Linked DNA regions of Homo sapiens. The protein of the gene in region 3 interacts with the protein of the main gene of each other region in a pairwise test. Each region holds a gene or a part of one and is shown on either strand. Other genes may lie near its edges.

Region 1 (7,214 bases), on a different chromosome or scaffold from region 3:
CCCCAAATATCTAAGACATGCATCAGTCAATTAAGAAAGTTTATTATACGCAAATCAATAAATGTAATCCAGCATATAAACAGAACTAAAGACAAAAACCACATGATTATCTCAATAGATGCAGAAAAGGCCTTTGACAAAGTTCAACAACCCTTCATGCTAAAACTCGCAATAAATTCGGTATTGATGGGACGTATCTCAAAATAATAAGAGCTATCTATGACAAACCCACAGCCAATATCATAATGAATGGGCAAAAACTGGAAGCATTCCCTTTGAAAACTGGCACAAGACAGGGATGCCCTCTCTCACCACTCCTATTCAACATAGTGTTGGAAGTTCTGGCCAGGGCAATTAGGCAGGAGAAGGAAATAAAGGGTATTCAATTAGGAAAAGAGGAAGTCAAATTGTCCCTGTTTGCAGATGACATGATTGTATATCCAGAAAACCCCATTGTCTCAGCCCAAAATCTCCTTAAGCTGATAAGCAACTTCAGCAAAGTCTCAAGATACAAAATCAATGTACAAAAATCACAAGCATTCTTATACACCGATAACAGACAAACGGAGAGCCAAATCATGAGTGAACTCCCATTCACAATTGCTTCAAAGAGAATAAAATACTTAGGAATCCAACTTACAAGGGACGTGAAGGACCTCTTCAAGGAGAACTACAAACCACTGCTCAATGAAACAAAAGAGGATACAAACAAATGGAAGAACATTCCATGCTCATGGGTAGGAAGAATCAATATCGTGAAAATGGCCATACTGCCCAAGGTAATTTATACATTCAATGCCATCCCCATCAAGCTACCAATGACTTTCTTCACAGAATTGGAAAAAAACTACTTTAAAGTTCATATGGAACCAAAAAAGAGCCCGCATTGCCAAGTCAATCCTAAGCCAAAAGAACAAAGCTGGAGGCATCACGCTACCTGACTTCAAACTATACTACAAGGCTACAGTAACCAAAACAGCATGGTACTGGTACCAAAACAGAGATATAGATCAATGGAACAGAACAGAGCCCTCAAAAATAACGCCGCACATCTACAACTATCTGATCTTTGACAAACCTGAGAAAAACAAGCAATGGGGAAAGGATTCCCTATTTAATAAATGGTGCTGGGAAAACTGGCTAGCCATATGGAGAAAGCTGAAACTGGATCCCTTCCTTACACCTTACACAAAAATTAATTCAAGATGGATTAAAGACTTAAACGTTAGACCTAAAACCATAAAAACCCTAGAAGAAAACCTAGGCATTACCATTCAGGACATAGGCATGGGCAAGGACTTCATGTCTAAAACACCAAAAGCAATGGCAACTAAAGCCAAAATTGACAAATGGGATCTAATTAAACTAAAGAGCTTCTGCACAGCAAAAGAAACTACCATCAGAGTGAACAGGCAACCTACAAAATGGGAGAAAATTTTCGCAACCTACTCATCTGACAAAGGGCTAATATCCAGAATCTACAATGAACTCAAACACATTTATGAGAAAAAAACAAACAACCCCATCAAAAAGTGGGAGAAGGATATGAACAGACACTTCTCAAAAGAAGACATTTATGCAGCCAAAAGACACATGAAAAAATGCTCACCATCACTGGCCATCAGAGAAATGCAAATCAAAACCACAATGAGATACCATCTCACACCAGCTAGAATGGCAATCATTAAAAAGTCAGGAAACAACAGGTGCTGGAGAGGATGTGGAGAAATAGGAACACTTTTACACTGTTGGTGGGACTGTAAACTAGTTCAACCATTGTGAAAGTCAGTGTGGCGATTCCTCAGGGATCTAGAACTAGAAATACCATTTCACCCAGCCATCCCATTACTGGGTATATACCCAAAGGACTATAAATCATGCTGCTATAAAGACACATGCACACGTATGTTTATTGCGGCACTATTCACAATAGCAAAGACTTGGAACCAACCCAAATGTCCAACAATGATAGACAGGATTAAGAAAATGTGGCACATATACACCATGGAATACTATGCAGCCATAAAAAATGATGAGTTCATGTCCTTTGTAGGGACATGGATGAAATTGGAAATCATCATTCTCAGTAAACTATCGCAAGGACAAAAAACTAAACACCGCATGTTCTCACTCATAGATGGGAATTGAAAATGAGAACACATGGACACGGGAAGGGGAACATCACACTCTGGGGACTGTTGTGGGGTGGGGGGAGGGGGGAGGCATAGCATTAGGAGATATACCTAATGCTAAATGACGAGTTAATGGGTGTAGCACACCAGAATGGCACATGTATACATATGTAACTAACCAGCACATTGTGCACATGTACCCTAAAACTTAAAGTATAATAATAATAAAAAAAATGAAAGAAATGTGAAAAAAAAAAAGAAAGTTTATTTTGCCAAGGTTAAGGACACACACCCATGACATGGCCTCAGGAGGTCCTGATGACATGTGCCCAAGGTGGTTGGGGTACAGCTTAGTTTTATACATTTTAGGGAGACATGGGACATCAATCAATATATGTAAGATGTACATTGGTTTGGTCCAGACAGGCCAGACAACTTGAAGCAGGGCAGGGGCTTTCAGTTAATAGGTAGATAAGAGACAAACAGTTGCATTCTTTTGAGTTTCTGATTGGCCTTTCCAAAGGAGGCAGTCAGAGATGCATCTATCTCAGTGAGCAGATGGGTGGCTCCGAGTTCTGTCATTTGTCCACAAGGAATTTCCTTGTGAGGGAGGTAGGTAGCTTTTTAATCTTAGTAGCTATCTTTTTTAGGAATAGAATGGGAGGCAGGTTTGCCTGATGCAGTTCCCAGCTTGACTGTCCCCTTTGGTTTAGTGATTATGGGGTCCCAAGATTTATTTTCCTTTCACACAAGCCCCAAAGTTGGGTTTTTACAAGAGCAACCAAAATATTAAGAACCTGAGAAAAGTCAAAACAAAACATATACTTACGTTTCTCTGAATCCTTAATTCTGCTGTAGTCAAAACTGTGATGTGTCCCTTTACCTTGAAAATGGAAGCCAAATCCATGGGATTTATGTAAGCTGGATTTCTGAAAAGTTTATTGATGTTTGGGAATGGGACAACAAGCTAGGAAATTAACGTATCTCTCCTCATTCTGTGTTGAGTGGATGTTAAGGCAAATTTACCAATATGCGCCAAGCTCTGCCCAGGGCGTTAGGGCATTAAGGCCACAGAGCTAAGACCCCAAAGAGCCTAGGATCCAGTGGAAGGGCTCAGAGGCTCTGGACAGCGCCTTGCACCACACACTGAACATGGGTCTGCTGGGGCCTCAGGACGGAGCAGCCAGGCTCCACCTTGGGGTGTGGGGAGGCCGGTTTGGTGAAAAGACACCCAGACCCTTCTGACTGTCATCCAAGGAAGAAGGAAAACTACTCTTTAAAAAGGCAGAAAGGGCCAGGCGCACGGCTCATGCCTGTAATCTCTGCACTTTGGGAGGCCCGAAGTGGAAGGATCACTTGAGGCCAGAAGATCAAGGCTGCAGTGAGCCATGATCCCACCACTGGACTCCAGCCTGGGCGACAGACCGAGACCCTGCCTCAATAAAAAAAAAAAACTTTTTAAATAATAATAAGTAAATAAGGCCCGGCACGGTGGCTTACGCCTGTAATCCCAGCACTTTGGGAGGCCGAGGTGGATGGATCACGAGGTCAGGAGATCGAGACCATCCTGGCTAACACGGTGAAACCCCGTCTCTACTAAAAATACAAAAAATTAGCCGGGTGCGGTGGCAGGCGCCTGTAGTCCCAGCTACTCGCGAGGCTGAGGCAGGAGAATGGTGTGAACCCCGGAGGTGGAGTTTGCAGTGAGCCGAGATCGTGCCACTGCACTCCAGCCTGGGCGATAGAGCCAGACTCTGTCTCCAAAAAAAAAAAAAAAAAAAGTAAATAAAACGGCTGAGGGGACTCAGGTCCCCCTGCGTGAAAGGAAGGGGCTTTAAGCGTCCACCTGGGGTAGCTGCATTATCACGTAGGATCCTCCTCTTCTAGTGTGGAAGGCCCTTTTTAATTTTCATTTATATTTTATTTATTTATTTTGCGACGGAGTCTCACTCTGATGCACAGGCTGGAGAGCAGTGGCGCGATATGGGCTCACTGCAACCTCCGCCTCCCGTTTTCAAACGATTGTCTCAGCCTCCCAAGCAGCTGGGGTTACACGCGTGCAACACGACGCCCGGCTAATTTTTGTATTTTTGGTAGAGACGGGGTCTCGCCATGTCGGCCAGGCTGGTCTCGAATTCCTGACCTCAAGCCATCCACCCACCTCGCCTCCCAACGTGCTGAGATTACAGGCGTGAGCCACCGCGCCTGGGAAGTGCGGGAGGCCTTTTTAAAAAATGTAAACTCGCGTGCTCAAGAAGCCCTATCGGAGGGAAACACCCAGAAGAGGCCACCCTCCAAACACAGGGTAAAACAGGGGTGACGCACAGAGGTAACGGGAAAGCAGGAACGAGCGAGAGCGTGCGGTCCCGTACCTGCGCGTGCCTGCGTGCGCGTCCGTGCGGCCGCGACGCCGCCGCCGGTGCCTCTCTTTCTAGACGTGCGCGCGCCCGCAGCTCGCCCCCCTGACCGTAAAGAGGCCCGGCTGTGTCGTGAAAGGGGCCGCAACGCGCAGAGCGCTGGTTGACGGCCGGGACTCCATTTTGTTCGCCGTTACTCTGCGCGTAAGTCGCTTGTCCGTGGCTTCTCTGAGAAGAAAAGTTGAAAAAGGGTAAAAGTTTTCAGGAATATTCGGGCTCTCTATTGCTAAGCATAGCGAGTGTCGGTTTTCTCTCTCCAACAGACATCGCTATTGCGGTTCCGAGGCAGTGGGAAGAGATGCGGCCCCTGGACATCGTCGAGCTGGCGGAACCGGAGGAAGTGGAGGTGCTGGAGCCCGAGGAGGATTTCGAGCAGTTTCTGCTCCCGGTCATCAACGAGATGCGCGAGGACATCGCGTCGCTGACGCGCGAGCACGGGCGGGCGTACCTGCGGAACCGGAGCAAGCTGTGGGAGATGGACAATATGCTCATCCAGATCAAAACGCAGGTGGAGGCCTCGGAGGAGAGCGCCCTCAACCACCTCCAGAACCCGGGCGACGCGGCCGAGGGCCGGGCGGCCAAGAGGTGCGAGAAGGCCGAGGAGAAGGCCAAGGAGATTGCGAAGATGGCAGAGATGCTGGTGGAGCTGGTCCGGCGGATAGAGAAGAGCGAGTCGTCGTGAGCGCGGTCGGCGGTAAGTCGGGCACCCGCGCCAGGCCGAGGAGCGGCCCCAGCTTGGCCGCTCTTCGAGAGCGATGATTTCATCGAGATGCACCGGAATCGGGGGTGGGGCGGGAGAATAAAGGCGTGCTCGGGTCAGGGCCGATCTGGGCCCCGTCTTCGTGTTTTGTTTTTTGACGGTGGCGGCGTGGGATAATCAGAGTGGCCGGGTTTGGGCGTGATGCGTGTTCAGTGGAAGGGTCATAAATCTCAGAGTCGCCAAGGAAACAGAAACGGACAAGGTCCCGGGCCGTCCAGCAAGCGGGGGTGGAAATAGAGGATTTTCGGGGAAGACGTTGGACAAGTCAACGTTGCTAGAGACTGGAGTGAGTCAGGTGGTGGCCAGAAGAGGTGGCGTCCTGCACAGTGGCGTTCGTGAGGGTTTGGGGGTCGTTGTGCCTGGGATTAACCTCTCGATGATGAATTTCTTCCCATTGTGCTTTAGGTTTCCAGCCAATGGATTCTGGTCAACTGGTGGAGATTGGCTGACACCCTGGAGAAGCCGAAACCAGAGAGCCTTTTGTTTTCTCTTTTTTCCTGTCTATGCTCTGTCTCACTTAACACTACGTTTTCTGCTATGGTCTGTGGTTGATGACCTCAATATGAGTTTCGATTGTTAACGTGTTTTTGTTTGGGAAGTAATTTTGTTTGAAAATGCTCTCACATACAGGAATTAGGGCCTAGATTGTAAGCTCTTGCAGCAGTCACATTTGTTCCCGGGCTTTGGTGGTTATTTCTAAATTTTTGAGGTGCTTTGCTATTTCTTGTGTGACCTGATAGCTCCCTGGAACTTTGGGTCTGTGTGTGACACATGAGACTCACAGTTGGAGTTCTCCAGCTCTGGAGGTGCTGAAGGAGCTGCATTAATTCTGGAAGACGACTCCATGCAGCAACTACTGAAGAAAGGACCAGACTTCAACGGGGAGTGTGGATGGGCCGACCTGGCTGGGACTCGTGAATCTGGAGAAGAGCTGGAGAATGGATAGTATTGTCTGTATTTGGAGACTTTAATTTCTGTGTGAGACCAAAGGAGGAGAGATGTGTTTTGTTCAAAATTTAAATTTGTTGTGGTACACTATCTTATGTAACCTGTCTGGTGAGTTTGTTTGGACAACCTAACTCAGCTTTATTTGACATGGAACCTAAAATAGAAGATAAGATCTTGATATTCTGTACAAGTTGATGTAATACCCTGATGCGTTTTAGAGGACTTGGCATAAAATGAAAGATTGGCAAAGGCCCTTGAGGGGCTTGGGGATGACAGTATGGAACTGTCTGCATTGGACCCTAAACTGGACTAGAAGAGGCATCTTCAAGGTTCATACGTTGTCCAGCTGTAAGTTCATTTGAGTAGCAGACCTAACAAATATTTGAGGTCAGAACCCTACCATGTTAAAACAAACAAAAACTTACCATGTTAATAAAAGTATTCATTTGCTTGAAAAGACGAAAGACCTAAAAGGTTATTGAGAAATGTTAGTCCTTTAAGAATGAAATCTGCTGTCTCCCAGATGGTTCTCACTGTCAAATGGAGGGTGAACATCTTAACGGTTTCTGAGGCTCTTAGTCTCTAATCAAAGGGAAGCTTTCTCTCTCTGCTGTTGGGAACCGGGTGAGGAAGAAACACACTTGGTTCTTAGTGTGGGAAGAAACCACATGTAATCCTGTGGTCCAGGCCTCTGCCTTCAGAGAGCCAAAGCACCTTCAGTCTTTCCAATTGGAACATTGTTTTCTAGGCCTTGCACTGGGAATATAGCGATTACAGTTGCAGGGTGAGGGATGACATAGAGGAGATGTGATACCCCACCCTCCTTCCAGATTGAAGCCTTTCTGCCTCAGCTGCTAGAAGTGTTGCTGACAAACACCCTTCAGCTGGTTAGCCCTCTGGGCAGTGCCTTTTCAGAGGAGAGCTGCGTTAGCCAAAGTCATGCCCTTTTCCCTGGGT
Region 2 (7,406 bases), about 63 Mb from region 3:
TGAAACTCCGTCTCAAAAAAAAAAGCTAAAACGAAAGCTCCTAGAAGAAAACAGGAAAAGCTTCATGGCATTAGATTTGGCAACGATTTCTTAGATATGACACTAAAAACACAGGCAACAAAATATATAAAGTGGACTACAACAAAGTCATCTTTTCTTAAAAAAATCTCGTTATCTTACTCCCGCAAAACTATTTAAAAAAATTAAGTTCAAAGTTCTCCAAAATGTACCATACCCTGGGGATTACTCTGAACTTTGTTCATTTGTTTTCTTTTAATTCGGCTTTTTTGGTTGCCTTTCACCTACTTTTTCGCAGAGCCCTCCGCTGGGGCCTTCACTTGGGCAAACAACTATCGTAGTCGAACAGCTTTGACCTAACAATTTCCTCGTACCCAAGATGATCGCTTTTCCAGACAACTTAATAAACTTTGGCTTTAATGGATGACTGGATGCAGAATAAAATACATAAAAATAAACCTCAGCTGCTCAGCAACGACTGAAAAACCACCACCGGGCAATCCCTCCCCATGGCCACCGAGCAAAGTTCCACCGCCTCCCCTACGCCGACCGCCGGGCTCCCGGGGTCGGACAGCCCCGGGCCACTTCCGGGCCTTCCCGGAAGTCCCTGTCACTTAACAACCGAAGTAACCCGCAATGCGGAAGGGCGAGGGGATTGCGAGTCACCGAGTTTCCCGCGCGGCTTGAGGTACTGGGGAACCGGAATCCCCCACCGGCCCAATCATGTTGCTGCTGGGGTCTCTCCGGTGCCCAGCAGTGGTTGTCAGTAAGCGGGCGGCACTCCCTTCCGATACGTCTTTTCTTTTTTCATTTTTGAGACGGAGTCTCGCTGTGTCACCCAAGCTGGAGTGCAGTGGCGCGATCTCGGCTCAGTACAAACTCCGCCTCCCGGGTTCAAGCGAGTCTCCTGCCTCAGCCTCCTGAGTAGCTGGGATTACAGGCGCGAGCCACTGCGCCCGGCTAATTTTTTTTTGTATTTTTAGTAGAGACGGGGCCTCGCCATGCTGGCCAGGCTGGTCTTGAACTCCTGACCTCAAGTGATCCGCCCGCCTCGGTCTCCCAGAGTGCTGGGATTACAGGCGAGAGACACCGCGCCTGGCCCCCTTCCAACTTTCTTAACGGGAAAGGCTGCTACCATTTCTTGAGCACCTATGTGTCAGGCTCCATCAGGCACGTCACAGTCTAACCTGATAATTACACAACCCATGTCACTGACAAGGAAGCCAGGTTCGGAGGGGTTGAGGCCCGCAACCTGAGGGAGGTGACTCCGGGACACACAATTAGTCCTGCTTTGCTGAAGGAAAGATATGCAGCCCACCAGTCGGAGGCTGGAGAAGGAGCAGCAGCAGCTTAAACCTTAACCCAGAGTTATTTTTATTTTCCAGAACGTGTTAGGAACTAGTACTTAAATAATCTCAAGTCCCTGAGGGGCCAGAGATCCCACCATGCAAAATAGCAAACAGACCCAAGACTTGGGGAGAGGCGGTGAGTGCATCAGAAATGGATGGGTACATCTGATTCCCACCACGCGGGGCTCAGCTTAGTTAGCAGGAGACCTTCAGACTGAGAAAAAATGCAAGTCTTTTTTTGGCCTCTAATATCTGGGAAGGATGGAGGGAGCTCAGGAGACACAGAAAAGATGGCGTATGAATCCTGTCCGGCCTGAACGAGGCTGGAGTTGTGCCTCTGGATAGCTTCAAGCACTGATCAGATTGTCAGCCCCCGCTGCTTGAACAGATGCTTTAGAGCCTCTTCCAGTTGCCGGTTTGTTCCCTGAAGCCCCTTCACCACCTGCGCTGCCCACTCGAAGTATTCCTGGACTCGATGTTCTGACCATCCTGCATAAGAGTCGACAGAAACTTGCTAGCGTGATGTCAAGGAAAGCACTGCCTTTTCCCCACTTCCTGGCAAGCTTGGTTCAAGGCCATGAGTTCCTGATGGAATGAGCTGTCCTGAAAACTTCCCCTTGGCCCAGCTATTGTATTTTTACTGTATGAAAGAAGATCAAAGAGTGGTCCAGTAGGATTAATTTGGGAATTAAGAATGCCCAGGGTTTTTCAGGGGAACTGACCAACATGTGTCTTCAGAAGGCGGCATCCCCCTCCCTTTTCCCTTACAGCCCATACGAAAGCGTACCCTCTGGGGTGCAGCGATTCAGGTCCCTCAGATTGTACAGCTTGTCTGCCAGCTTCACCAGTTTGGCCCCGGGGCTACTGTGGGGCGCTTGCTCCACCTGCAGCCTCTTTCTCTCCAGCTTGGGCAGAGTCTTGTCATCTGTTACCTCCTCCACCAGGCGCCGCACTTGTGCCCCAAAGTGTAGCTCCACCTCATCCAGGGTGGTGTCTGTGTCCTCCACCGTGTCATGGAGCAGGGCCGCCTGGGGACAAGTTCCCACTCAGCCCTGAGATGTCAGCCAAGGGTTGCCCATTGCTGAATGGGGCCCCTAATCCCCATCCCAGGCTCCTGGCAGAGAAGGGGGAAAGTTACCTGTAACACCACAATGTCAGTGATTCCCGCCTCGTGGGTCAGGATCCGTGCCACACCTGACGGGGAGGGGCAAAGCAGGAAGTCAGGTCGGAGGTAGTCCCAAGGCGGTGTGTTGTGGGTTTTGGAGAGCCAGATGTGGCCCCTTGTGGACTCTGACTAGCTGGGTGACCTTGGTCAAGTACCTTACCCTCTGGGAGCCAACCGACAAAGGGAACGATCATGCCTACCGTTCCAATTGTTATGAGGCTTAAACGGTATATCGCACTAAGCTTGGGACAAAACAGGTGCTCAATGAGGTGCACGCCCCCCACGTTTCCTTCCCAGTCCCCACCACCCAGGTGCCGCAGCCGGCGCTCCGCGGCCGACGCGCCCACCGATGGGGTGGTTGATGTAGGGGGTCCCCTCGGGGTCCTTCCGCCGCTGCTGCCGGTGCTTGCGAGCCGCGAAGTCGGCAGCCTCCAGCAGCTGCGCCGCCTCAGAGCCCATCGCGCGGATGGGGCCGACGACTGCGGCCGCAGGGGCAGGGACGGAACGTTTACAGCGCCCCCTGGCGCCGGGGAGGCCCGGGGATCGTGGAGGCTAATTCAGCGGGCCGAGTTGGGCCTGCCCCAGATGAATTCCTCTGGAGCTGACCGGCCCGCGCAGAGAGCAAGTGATGTGGACAGCTGCCTTCAGCATCGCAGCCCCCAGCTCAGTGTGCTCTGTTGGGGGTGCAAGAAGAACATAAGCCTGGCTCTTTGGGAGCCCACAGTCTGTGGAAAAGAGGAAGACAGACAAGAAATAAGGCAGTGGCCTCACAGTGCTCTGAATCCAGGGTGGCCAAGGCTCAGGGGACTATGGGAGCGGGAAGAAAGAACAATCCCCACACCCTCAGAGTCAGAGACAGCTTCTCCCAGAAGCTCCCCCCAAGAACCATCTTCAACCTGTAAAAGCTCTGAAAATTCTCCAAGTGTTCTAAAAATAGTTCTCCCTGTAGGGATGGGCCAGGTTCTGTGGGCAGGGGAGTCTACCTTTGGACCCTCCAGGAGACCCTAGGGCCTGACCTGAAAAATCAGAGCCTTCCCTGGGAGCCCTGCCTAATTGCTTCAGACTTAGGCTCCCAGGTAGCTGTGACGTTTCTGCAGGAACTGCCTTTGTTTGTCCTCAGTGTTGCAGATGAAATTTGCCTTGTCTTCTTATGCTATGAGAGCTCCTATTTCAGTCTCTAGGCATCTTCTGTGGGCCCCTGGGGTGATGAGTGTTGTCACTGCTGTCCTGGGAGCATGATGTTGTCAGGCCTGGGTAGGCACTGGAATAACACTTAATTCTGCTGGCTGGTGGCCTTCTGGAGAAATTCCCTGCCTTAGGGGCAGCTGAGGGGTAAGAGAGACCTGGTGATCCCCATAGAACTTCTCTGTGAGAGGGGGTTCCCTATTAGCTAAGTATACTCTAATCAGACATGTAGCTTTTGTGTTCTGGCTGGTAGCTGGGGCAGATAAGGCTCAGGGGAAAGGCTAATGAAAGGAGTCACCCTTGGTTTTCAGCTAGTCTTGGTGGTTGCCACGTAGCAGAGGTTAGGGAGGGAAGCCCCACATGCTGGAACTGAGGTCTCTGGGACCTGAAATAGGAGGGTCAGAATTCCCAGAGCTTCCATGGCAGCCTGGAAGTTGGAGAATGGGTAGAAACATATTTGGCTGTAAATGCTTGTTTGTTCTTCATACTAATGGCTCAGCTGCTCTCTCATCCCTCATTCTGTCCTCTAGTCCTTTGAGCCTTCTCTCCTTCAGCAGTTTGGCAATGCAGGCCCCACGTTTTCCAACAGGAGACAGAAACCCAGTCCCTGTCATCTCTCTCTAAAAGCCTGTGATAGAGAAGCTTCAGGCTCGTATTAATGGTGCCCAAGGGCCTTGGGGCTTTGACTTTTATTTCCTTATTGTCTGCAGTCACGGCCTAGAAAGAGAGATGTTGGGGTTCCCAGGACCAGGACAGAGGTGGTAGTGAACTCTCATGGGCATCCAGAGAAGGTCAGGCCCCTTGCTGACAGGCCTATCTGTGGGGCTACTGCTGCTCTTCAGCTGGGTGACCCTTGTCCAGCCAACCTCTCTCTCAGGTACAGCACTTACCCCTGTGGCCCACCTGCCTCTGGTGCTATGGGCTATTCCTGGGAACTGGAACTGATGGGGATGGGTGGAAGGGCATCTTTTCTTCTGGTAGGGGCTGATCTCTTTTACTCTCCAGTAGGGGTGGAGTGAGCTGTGGAAAGGCCCCTCCTGCTTGTCTCTAGCACCCCCACCTCTCTCTTCAGCTCTGGTCCACCACCCTCACTTGTGCCAGACCACCCGGGATGTCCATGGCCGTCACTACCCTGGTTTCTTTTGCCCTCGTCTGTCTGATTCTCCAGAGGAAGCCTACTGCTGCCACCTGCAGGCTGCAGGGGGCTCCTGCTGCACCCGGGCTGAATTTGAGGCCCTGTACCAAGTCAATCTGTCCGCTCTTCCGCCCCCGCCCATCCTCAGGTGAGATCTCCAACCCCAGAGCCACTGGAACATCGACAGGGTGTTCCAGTATCTGGGGCTCTGTTCCTAAATTATGGGGTGGTAGGCTTGTAACTTACAGACTAGTGAAGGGACAGACCGCAACAGAAAATCATGTAGATCATGATTACAATTACAAAGGAGAAGTTCAGGGGGCTGTGCAAGCTGGTAATGGGGAGCCATCCTGAATCTGCCCATGGGTGGCTCTAGGATGAGCTCCTAAATTCGTATGCAAATGTGTGTATGTAAGACGACACTTATTTGGGGAGGGAGTCCTGAGCTTTCTCCGGACTCCCAGGGATTCTGTACCCCCCACAGAGCGCAGCAGCGAGAGCGCGGTCGGGGCCGGGATCCAGATACTTTTTCTCTCCCGCAGGGGCCCAGGCCCGCTCCTAGTGCTGGGCCTCTACAACCTACTGGTTGTGACCCTGATGACCGTAGACCTCGTGCACTTCTGCTGCGGTCGGGGCCGGAGTCTGGGCTGGAGCCACCGCAGGCCTCCCTCTGGGTCCTCCGCCGCGAGCTCCCTGCAGGTCTCTGCGGGGACAGCTTAGGTGCGCCCGGAGCTTGCCTGCACCTGCGATCCAGAGCCAAGCGCCCCGCCCCTGCCCGGGCGCGCTCCCTCCTTAGCCCTGCCCCTCTCTGACCCCACCTCCGACGCAAGAGTGGGGCGGGGCAGCTGCCGGTGGCGTCCCGAACCCAGACTCGCCCCGCCCCAGAGACTGCGCCTGCGCGGGCACGAGACAACCTCTCCGCGATGACTGTGAGTGGTCCAGGGACCCCCGAGCCCCGGCCGGCCACCCCCGGGGTGCGTACCCAACCCCCGCGCCATCACCCCTTCGCACCCGCCCTGACCATCCCTGGCCTCCTTCTCCCCATCCATGAGGCTCGCCCCGATCCCTCCTCTCCTCTCCCCTTAGCTCCCGGGCTCTGCCCCGAACCCCCTCCGACGTTTCCGCCCCCTTTCTCTCTACAGGCCAGCTCAGTGGAGCAGCTGCGGAAGGAGGGCAATGAGCTGTTCAAATGTGGAGACTACGGGGGCGCCCTGGCGGCCTACACTCAGGCCCTGGGTCTGGACGCGACGCCCCAGGACCAGGCCGTTCTGCACCGGAACCGGGCCGCCTGCCACCTCAAGCTGGTGAGGGAGCCTGGCGCTCTTCCCCTCGCCCGCCCGGGCCCCGGTTCGCCCATCTAAGCTGATGCTTGGGCCCCAGCTGGACATTCACGCTCCCAGGCCATCCCCGCTTGCCAGATGTTTTTTGCACCTCAGGGTGGTGGGGGATCGGGTGACCTTGGAGAGCGAGAGTACCCCTGCTGCCTGGTTAGTGCCCCGAGAGGGAGATGACCATTCCTTCAGGCTCCTGTCTTTCTCTTACAGGAAGATTACGACAAAGCAGAAACAGAGGCATCCAAAGGTAGGGGAATGGTGGGCCCTGGTGTGGAGCTGTAGGGCTTCTGTGGTGGGCAAGGACTCTGGGACCGCTGCACCGTCACATTCTCCTCCTTTGGCCCCAGAGACACATCTGCCTTCTTTCTTTCCCACTGCCTCGGGCCTTTCCTTTTCTGCAGCTACCCTCACCTTTTCTGAGGCTGAAGCACCGAGCCCCACATTCGTCCCCCCCACCTTCTTCTGGCCTTTCCTCGAGATCTTTCCCTACTGCTCTTGCCTGGAGACAGTGGCCTCATGGGTGCTGACAGCGCTCCTGTTTGTGCTCAGCCATTGAAAAGGATGGTGGGGATGTCAAAGCACTCTACCGGCGGAGCCAAGCCCTAGAGAAGCTGGGCCGCCTGGACCAGGCTGTCCTTGACCTGCAGAGATGTGTGAGCTTGGAGCCCAAGAACAAAGTTTTCCAGGAGGCCTTGCGGAACATCGGGGGCCAGATTCAGGAGAAGGTATGTGAGTGACCCAGAGAGGTGGAAGCATTGACTGGTGGTGAAGGGGTCTGGGCCAGGGGTGTAGACACAGTTCTCCAGACGAGATCCCGGTGGCAAGTGAACCTTGCCTGTGGCCAGGGAAAAGCAAATTAAGATGACAGCACATTACTGTTGATTTGGAGGTCTGTCTGGCAGATATTTAAAAGTTTGTACACTTTTCGAGAAGGAGAGAGGCAGACACATCAGTGGTGAGGCTGGGGGCCAAGGGCTCTCTGATGACTGCTGGAGGGGTATAAATTGGTACAGCTCTTTTCGAGAGTACTTTAGCATATCTATTCAATTTCAAATGAGCGTATCTTGTGATCCCATATGTTTACTTCTTGCTGTTTCTCTCAGAGAAACCTTGTCCACGTGCACAAGTAGACATGTGTATGTTTATTTCAGCCTTTTTTGTAGTAAGAAAAACTTGGAACTTGCCTGAATGCCCAGCCATAGAGGAATGGCTGAATAAAT
Region 3 (7,548 bases):
TACACAAATCCCAATAGAATTTTTTTGTGGAACTCGAGAGGCTGATCCTAAAATTCATACAGTCACTTGAGGGGCCAAGAATAGTGTAACAGGGCTGGCGGGGCTGGTGGCTCACACCTGTAGTCCCAGTACTTGGGAAGTCAAGACTGGAGGATGGTTTGAACCCAGGAGTTCAAGACCAGCCTAGGCAACATAGCAAGATGTTGTCTCAAAATATTAAAAATAAATAAATAAATAAAAAGAAGGTTAAGTATGCACATTTTGTTGTGAATTTCAATTTTATAGTGATTTTTTTTTTTTTTTTGAGACAGGGTCTTGCTCTGTCACCCAGGCTGGAGTGCAGTGGTGCCATCTTGGTTCACTGCAACCTCTGCGTGGGCTCAAGCAATCCTCCCGCCTCACTCTCTGGAGTAGCTGGGACCACAGTTATGTGCCACCACACCTGACTAATTTTTATATTTTTTTTTTGTAGAGACGGGGTTTTTCCATGTTGCCCAGGTTGTTCTCAAACTCATCCACCTGCCTTGGCCTCCGTAAGTGAGATCACAGACATGGGCCACTGTGCCCGGTCTAGTGCGCTTTTTTTTTTTTTTTTTTTTTTAACCAAACAAACGATGAAGTCTCAGGAGTAAAAGTTGATACACAAGTAAATTTTATTGGTAATGTTTTTGTGTGGTCTTTAAGCAGAGGGAAAATTAGTCTGCATTATGGTGTATCCAGACTAAATAACTGATATTAAAATGAAATTATCCTTAGGATTTGCAATCTTAGAGAAAACTTTTTCATTTTTTTTGAGTTACAAATTATCTTCACTTACATTTGAGAACAGTGAGTCACAGAGGGATTAAGTATCTTACTCAAGATCTTCAAGTGTTTGGTTTGAACCCAATCTTTTCACTCTGCAGAACTCAGAGTCACTCTTATTTGGAAACTTTTTAACTGATGTGGATCCTCTAATATGGGCTTCCTATTATTCATTCCGTATTAGTCAGAAGTTTTGCAAGCAGGCAGAATTCATTTTGCCAATTACGGGATTTTCCCTCAGTTGCAGTCAAGGTTCATAAAACTATAACTATTTATCTTTAATTATAAATTTTGTTTTTGAGACAAAGTCTTGCTCTGTTGCTCAGACTGGGATCCAGTGGCACAGTAACAGCCCATTGCAGCTTTGAACTCCTGGGCTCAAGGGATCCTCCGCCTCAGCCTCCCAAGTATCTGGGACTACAAGTGCATGCCATCATCCCTGGCTAATTTTGTTAAAAAAAAAAAATTGTAGAGATAGGGTCTTGCTTCGTTGCCCAGGCTGGTCTCAAACTCCTGGCCTCAAGCAAGCCTTCAGCCTTGGTCTCCCAAAGGGCTGAGATTACAGGTGTCAGCCATTGCACCTGGCCAAAACTGTAACTATATATACACACACACATAACTACATATATATGTGTGTGTGTGTGTGTATGTATGTGTGTGTGTATATATATTTTTATATATAAATAGATATATCTGAAAGGCATCAAAAGAAAAAAGCTGTAACTTTTAGTCTTGATCTTGATAGTGACTTGATTAGGCTATCTGTTTAACATCAAAGATGCAAATTAATGCTTTCTTTGGGTGAGCATATTAAAAATGCAGAAAATATTGGAGTAGTTTTTTATGTTAAATAAATTGTATTCTGTGTATTTAAGGTATACAACATGATTTTATGGGATGCATATAGATGGTTAAAAAAAATTACTACAGTGAAGCAAATTAACGTATCCTTCAACTCAGATAGTTACCCGTTTTCTTTTTGTTTGGTGGCAAGAGGAGCTTAAAATCTCATTTAGCGTGAATCCCAAATACAGCACAATTTTATTACCTATATTTCTCGCGTTGTACATTATATTTCTAGGCTTGTTCATCCTACATATCTGCTACTGTGTAACCTCTGAGCTATGTCCACCCATTTTCTCTCTTGCCCCCCAAGTAATTTCCTAAAGTGTCTCATATAAAAAGGCAGTAGCTTTCAGCTTAAACTTTTTCTCTGTATATATTTAAGTCAATTTCTTTGAGGTATGTTTTTCTCTCCAGAATAGTTAGATGTAGGCATACCACTTTAATGTTGACACTAGTTCACCTAGAACTTATCTTCTGCAAATCTGTCTCTATGTCCATCTCTGTCTCCATCTTTGTCTCTGTCTTTATCTCTGTCTATCTATCTATCCATCCATCCATCCATCCATCTATCTCTCTATCCATCTATCTGTCTATCTAACTAAAGCAAATTCATGCCCTTCTCCTATTTATGGAATCGAGACCATAAACAGAGGTGAGGGAAAGAATTTGGCAGGAATTGCGATGTGTATTACCTGTGGCATAAGGAAACTTTACAGAACTAGGGTCAAAAGTATACTTTCTAGTTCTTTCCCATGGCTTTTCACTTTGATGTAGTCCTTATCAGGCAACTGAGGTTTTATATAAGTCCCCTGATTCTTAGAACATGAAGGTGTAGTATTCAAGTTTGGTCCCTTGAAACCACAATTTTTGTTAAAAAAAAATTAAGAAAATTGTATAATTTCCTCAGCAAATACATATTGATCATCTGTTATACAGCCATGAGAAGTGGTTCTGTTGAACACGTTTATTTTATCAGATCCCAATTCTAAACCAGGCATAGAATGGAAACCATGAAGGTAGGATGAAATAACTTCTGAATGTTTGAAAATAGTGTACTTAAAAATAAATATCAGGTGTTTTTGTTTTGTTTTTTGTTTTTTGTTTTTGAGACAGGGTCTCACTCTGTCACCCAGGCTGGAGTGTGGTGGTGCCATCTCACCTCATTGCAGCCTTGACCTCCCAGGCTCGGGTGATCTCCCACCTCAGCCTCCCAAGTAGCTGGGACTACAGGCACATGCCACCATGCCCAGCTAATTTTTTGTATTTTTTGTAGAGACAGGGTTTCACCATGTTGCCCAAGCTGGTCTAGAACTCCTGGGCTTAAGCGATCTTCCCACCTCAGCCTCCCAAAGTGCCAGGATTACAGGCATGAGCCACCATGCCTGGCTGAAAATACCAGGTTTTTAAGTATCAGCACTGCCTCTTCAATCTTTTCTATTACTATGTTGTGCTCAGTGGTATTTTTTATTGAATTAGAGCAGTGCTGTTCAATGGAACCTTCTTTGAGGATGGAAATCTTTTATGTCTCTGCTGTGTGGGTATGGTATTAGCTGGGTATGGGGCACCTGCCTATAGTCCCAGCTACTCAAGAGGCTGAGGTGGGAGGATCACTTGAGCCCAGGAGGCCGAGTCTGCAGGTTCGTACCACTGCAATTCAGCCTGTGTGACAGAATGAGACTCAGTCTCAGAATAAAATGAAATAAGGAAATAAAAATGTAATTGTTGAAATAAGAAACTAGTGGATGGATTAGACACGAGAAGAAAGAATTAATTGTTTAGGCGATTCTCTCCAAAAAGTAAGTCAGCATGTCACACAGAGAGACATGAGGATGGATGATAGGGCAGAAGTTGGTGGGCTTGGAGGGGAGAGGAAGATCAGAATGAGGTCCAAAATGTGTCTTAGTGAAATCCCAGGAGGAGATATTAAAATTATATTAGAAAGTGAAAGAAATAGAAGTTTTATTTATTTATTTATTTATTTATTTTGAGAAGGAGTCTCGCTCTGTAGCCCAGGCTCGAGTGCAGTGGCACGATCTGAGCTCACTGCAAGCTCCACCTCCTGGGTTCACGCCATTCTCCTGCCTCAGCTTCCCAAGTAGCTGGGACTACAGGCACCCACCACCACGCCTGGCTAATTTTTTGTATTTTTAGTAGAGATGTGGTTTCACCTTTTTAGTCAGGATGGTCTCAATCTCCTGACCTCATGATCCGCCAGCCTCAGGCTCCTAAAGTGCTGGAATTATACGCATAAGCCACTGCACCCGGCCCAAAAGCTTTGTGTTTTTACAAATATTACACATGTTTCTTGTTTAAGAAAAAAAGTCTTCACAATAACGTAGGAGAATAAGAGAAACATTTTTCCAAAAAAGAGAAGTCATTGTGATTATTTTATCTTATTGGAATGTTGGATAATATAGTCTGCTTCAGTAATCATCAAGCATGCTATGGATTTTCCATCTTCATAGGATCTGTATCTCGGTTAAGGTAATACTGGTAATTTTTGTACTCTATGAAAAATATAGGCCAAAATCATAGACCTTGCATAGAAGCTGGATCATGAAGACAGCTCTGGAGGAACACACAGGTACACACACACAGACACACATATATATAAAGTATACACATATATATTTTTTAAAAGCTTTTAAAGCAAAAGCCGGCCCTGCCCCTCTCCCAGAGTTGGCGGCCTCTCCCCTCTCTTAGAGTGGGTGGGGACAGTGGTTGCATGGGCAGCTTTCCTTGTGAGCCAAAGGTCCCTCTGGACACATGATGCCTGGCCACGCCCCCTTTCCCTTTCATCTTTCTCATTAACCAATGGGCTTGGAGCATTAAGGCCACGCCCCTATTCTGCCTTCTACTGCATCCCTGGTTACGCCTCCTCTGGCTCAGTCGCACAGCTACCTGGTAGGTGACTGGAGGTGTTGATCAGTGCTTGGTGGGATTTTGCTGATGTGGCCCCAAGCCCGCCTCCCTCCCCACCCTGCGATGGCAGAAGAAACTCGACAAAGTAAATTGGCAGCAGCCAAGAGAAAGGTAAAAACACACCAGGTCACGGACCCCCAACCCAGCCATAGATCCTCTCCAACGACAAGACTGCTGCCAGAGTCCATACCACTCCCGAGGTTCACCGGACTGGGACCCCCACACCGGTGCCTCTGGGCTACCCCCACCAAAGTTTTGTCAGTCAGCCCCACCCCTTCAGCAAGCAGCCCAGTCTCTGCCCTCACCAATCACCCCAGGGTGACTTTGGGCAGGTGAATCCTGGGGCTCCCCGCTCCTTTACTGGGCCCTCATCTCCTGCCACCCCAAGCTTGACCTCCCAGGGCTTTTTGGGCTCACATCTCCAAGGACCTGGGTCCCACAGCCCCAGACCCCACCCTCACCAGTCATCCCTGGGTGACTTTAGGCTGGTGAATCCTGGGGCTCCCTGCTGCTGACTCTTCCCTTCCCTCCTGCTGCCTCAAGGTGGACCTCCCTAGGCTGTGTGCACTGGTGTCTCCAAGGACCTGGGTCCCAGCTCTGTTTTTCCCTCCCCTATCATGGAGCGGTGACTCGGACATCATGCTGATGTGGTCCCTCCCCCTCACCAGGAAGAGTGGAATGTAGTGATGTCACGGTCCATCCAGTAACTGTCATTACTGCAAGACTGGCCTTTGATCTTATGACCCAGTCCCCTAAGCATTGCCACCCCATTTCTGGTTCCTCTTGTCACAGCACAAATTTCCAGCTGGAAGGGGAATGGAGATTGGGACCTAGGAGCAAGAGGTTTCAGGCTGCCTCACTCCCTTAGCATAAACATTGACAGCGGGAAAAGCCTACACTTCCCCTGTGAGCTCAAAACATTGACAGTACCTCTGGATGGCAACTGGAGAATGGGTTTGACTTGGTTTGGTTTTCTCCCAGGCTTCTACTTTCCAGAGAGATTTTAACAAATTTTTTGTGAGTTCTCCACCTCACATTCTAATTCTCCATGGTTCTGGGACCAGACTGCCCTTCAGCCAGTGGTCTGTGAAGTGAGATTTGCTCATCTTCTCTGGAATAGATCTTGGGAAACTGAACTTGACAGCTTGAATCTTCCTCATATTATGTAAACCTGGGGTACTTTGAGTGCCACAGGATACATATGGGACATCTTTCTGAAGCATCAGTTTCCATTGATTCTCTTGAGATCAAGAGAAAAAACATTAATGTACTTAGGGATGACAGTCACATAGGTTTCTAAGAGTATACCAGACTTCTCTCTGAAATGAGGCTTGGGTTGTCCTCTTTCTGATAAATTCCCAGATTTAACAGAAAGGCTGCCTTCTGCCATGAGGACACATTGATATAAGAGTTTGAGAGGTACTGGTGCACTTCTTCACACTAACAGACGTGTGAGGATGTATGACTAAACCACATGGCATACAGTTCCTGCCTACTTAATGTTTACTTTTCTACCTCTGCCTCTGGTTTTGGTCCCTGGCAGCTGCTGATTCTTGGTAAAACCCCAGAGTTTGGAGTCAGAAGACTGAGTTTCAAAGTTCGTCTGTCGCCTTTTTCTTTTCTTCTTTTTTTTTCTAGCCATGATATCAATCTCTTTGAGTCACTAAATGATTGTGACAACACCTTGTACAGTTGTTGGTATCATTAAATCAGATGGTGTATAAGAGTATTTTATAAAAACTGTAAAGGAGGATGTGGCTGCAGGGGCTGATAGTTCTCATGAGTATTACTGCTCTTGTTTCTGACAGTTAAAAGAATATTGGCAGAGAAACAGCCCTGGTGTTCCAGCAGGAGCCAAGAGGAACAGGAAAACAAATGGCAGCATCCATGAGACAGCCACTTCTGGTGGTTGCCACTCACCTGGAGATGTGAGTCTTGGCTGACTAGGTTCCTGGGGACAGGGGACCCAAGGGGCACTAGAGGGTAATTGTTAAGATTGTGGATGGACTGTTGGGTACCTGTGAAGAATTCTGGGTTTGAATCCTGCCTCTTTGTCTGCTAGGGATATGAATTAGGGCAAGTTGCTAGACCTCATCGGGCCTCTCTTTTCACATCTGTATAATAGAGGTGGTATTGTTTCACTTCCATTTGTGAAGTTTAAATGAGATTTGTTATTGTTGTTTTTATGTTAATCCCTAGTACATGGCCTGCTGTAAACACCCAGAACACCCAGGATATGGTCATTGCTGTTCGATTTTCCTCATCCCCAGTCTCAAGGGGAAGCCAGGACAATGAGAACAGTCACTTGGCACAGGAGTCACTGAAAGGGCCACAGGGTGCTGTGGTGGGGAGATAAGAACCATGAGAGAAGTTGGCACAAAGGAGTTATGGGACAAAGGGTCCAAGATAGGCAGAAAAGAAAATTGTGCCAGTTGATGGGGAAGAAAAGAAGTCAGAGGGCTTAGATACTGAGTGGGACAGAACATCTTCATGTGCACTCTCATCTCTTGTAGTCAGCAACAGGTATCCACGGGGAGAGCCCTACATCATCTGCTACCCTGAAGGATCTGGAGGTAAGAGGCTCTGGGCAGAGGTGCAGTGACCCTGCAGGCCAGCCCTCCAACCTCCTCCTCCAGGTGGGACGGGGTGCCCCTCTGCCAGCTGAGACAGTCCACACACACCCCAGCCCTAATGATTGCTCTCTCTACCTCTCCCCCCACTCCTCCTCCACCTCCTCCTCTCTGCATGCGCCTCAGAGCCCGTGCCAAGAACTAGCAGTAGTCCCAGACTCGAGGTCCGTAAAAGTCAGTCAACTGAAGAACACCATCAAATCTTTGGTAAGAGTCCACTGGGGTCCCCTGATTCCACGCTGCCAATCCTGGGCTCTAGTTTCCCCTTGGGGCCCTGAAGAAAGGGGACGGCGGCCCCTGGTGCCAAGGGCGAATAGGGAGCTGGGGCGCCCAGGCCTCACCTGGA

What was found. The genes of interacting proteins can lie anywhere in the genome.
Region 1: the proteins of GOLGA8F (region 3) and MRFAP1 interact in binary tests that used the Homo sapiens proteins (3 or more experiments, as listed by UniProt).
Region 2: the proteins of GOLGA8F (region 3) and HDDC3 interact in binary tests that used the Homo sapiens proteins (3 or more experiments, as listed by UniProt).

What each region holds. Positions count from the first base shown.
Region 1 is NC_000004.12:6,636,016-6,643,229, forward strand, and holds MRFAP1 (MORF4 family-associated protein 1), read left to right. Parts: upstream 1-4,669; 5' UTR 4,670-4,847; coding exon 4,848-5,231; 3' UTR 5,232-5,243; intron 5,244-5,714; 3' UTR 5,715-6,714; downstream 6,715-7,214.
Region 2 is NC_000015.10:90,929,550-90,936,955, forward strand, and holds HDDC3 (guanosine-3',5'-bis(diphosphate) 3'-pyrophosphohydrolase MESH1), read right to left. Parts: upstream 3,001-7,406; 5' UTR 2,992-3,000; coding exon 2,880-2,991; exon of another isoform or gene 2,837-2,879; intron 2,562-2,836; coding exon 2,506-2,561; intron 2,396-2,505; coding exon 2,155-2,395; intron 2,008-2,154; coding exon of another isoform or gene 1,994-2,007; exon of another isoform or gene 1,857-1,993; coding exon 1,726-1,856; 3' UTR 419-1,725; downstream 1-418. Other genes in the region: UNC45A (protein unc-45 homolog A), read left to right, coding at 5,776-5,826, 5,995-6,156, 6,397-6,433, 6,736-6,911. UniProt on the Homo sapiens protein: ppGpp hydrolyzing enzyme involved in starvation response.
Region 3 is NC_000015.10:28,374,127-28,381,674, forward strand, and holds the start of GOLGA8F (golgin subfamily A member 8F), read left to right. Parts: upstream 1-4,537; 5' UTR 4,538-4,635; coding exon 4,636-4,683; intron 4,684-6,380; coding exon 6,381-6,500; intron 6,501-7,085; coding exon 7,086-7,145; intron 7,146-7,328; coding exon 7,329-7,409; intron 7,410-7,548.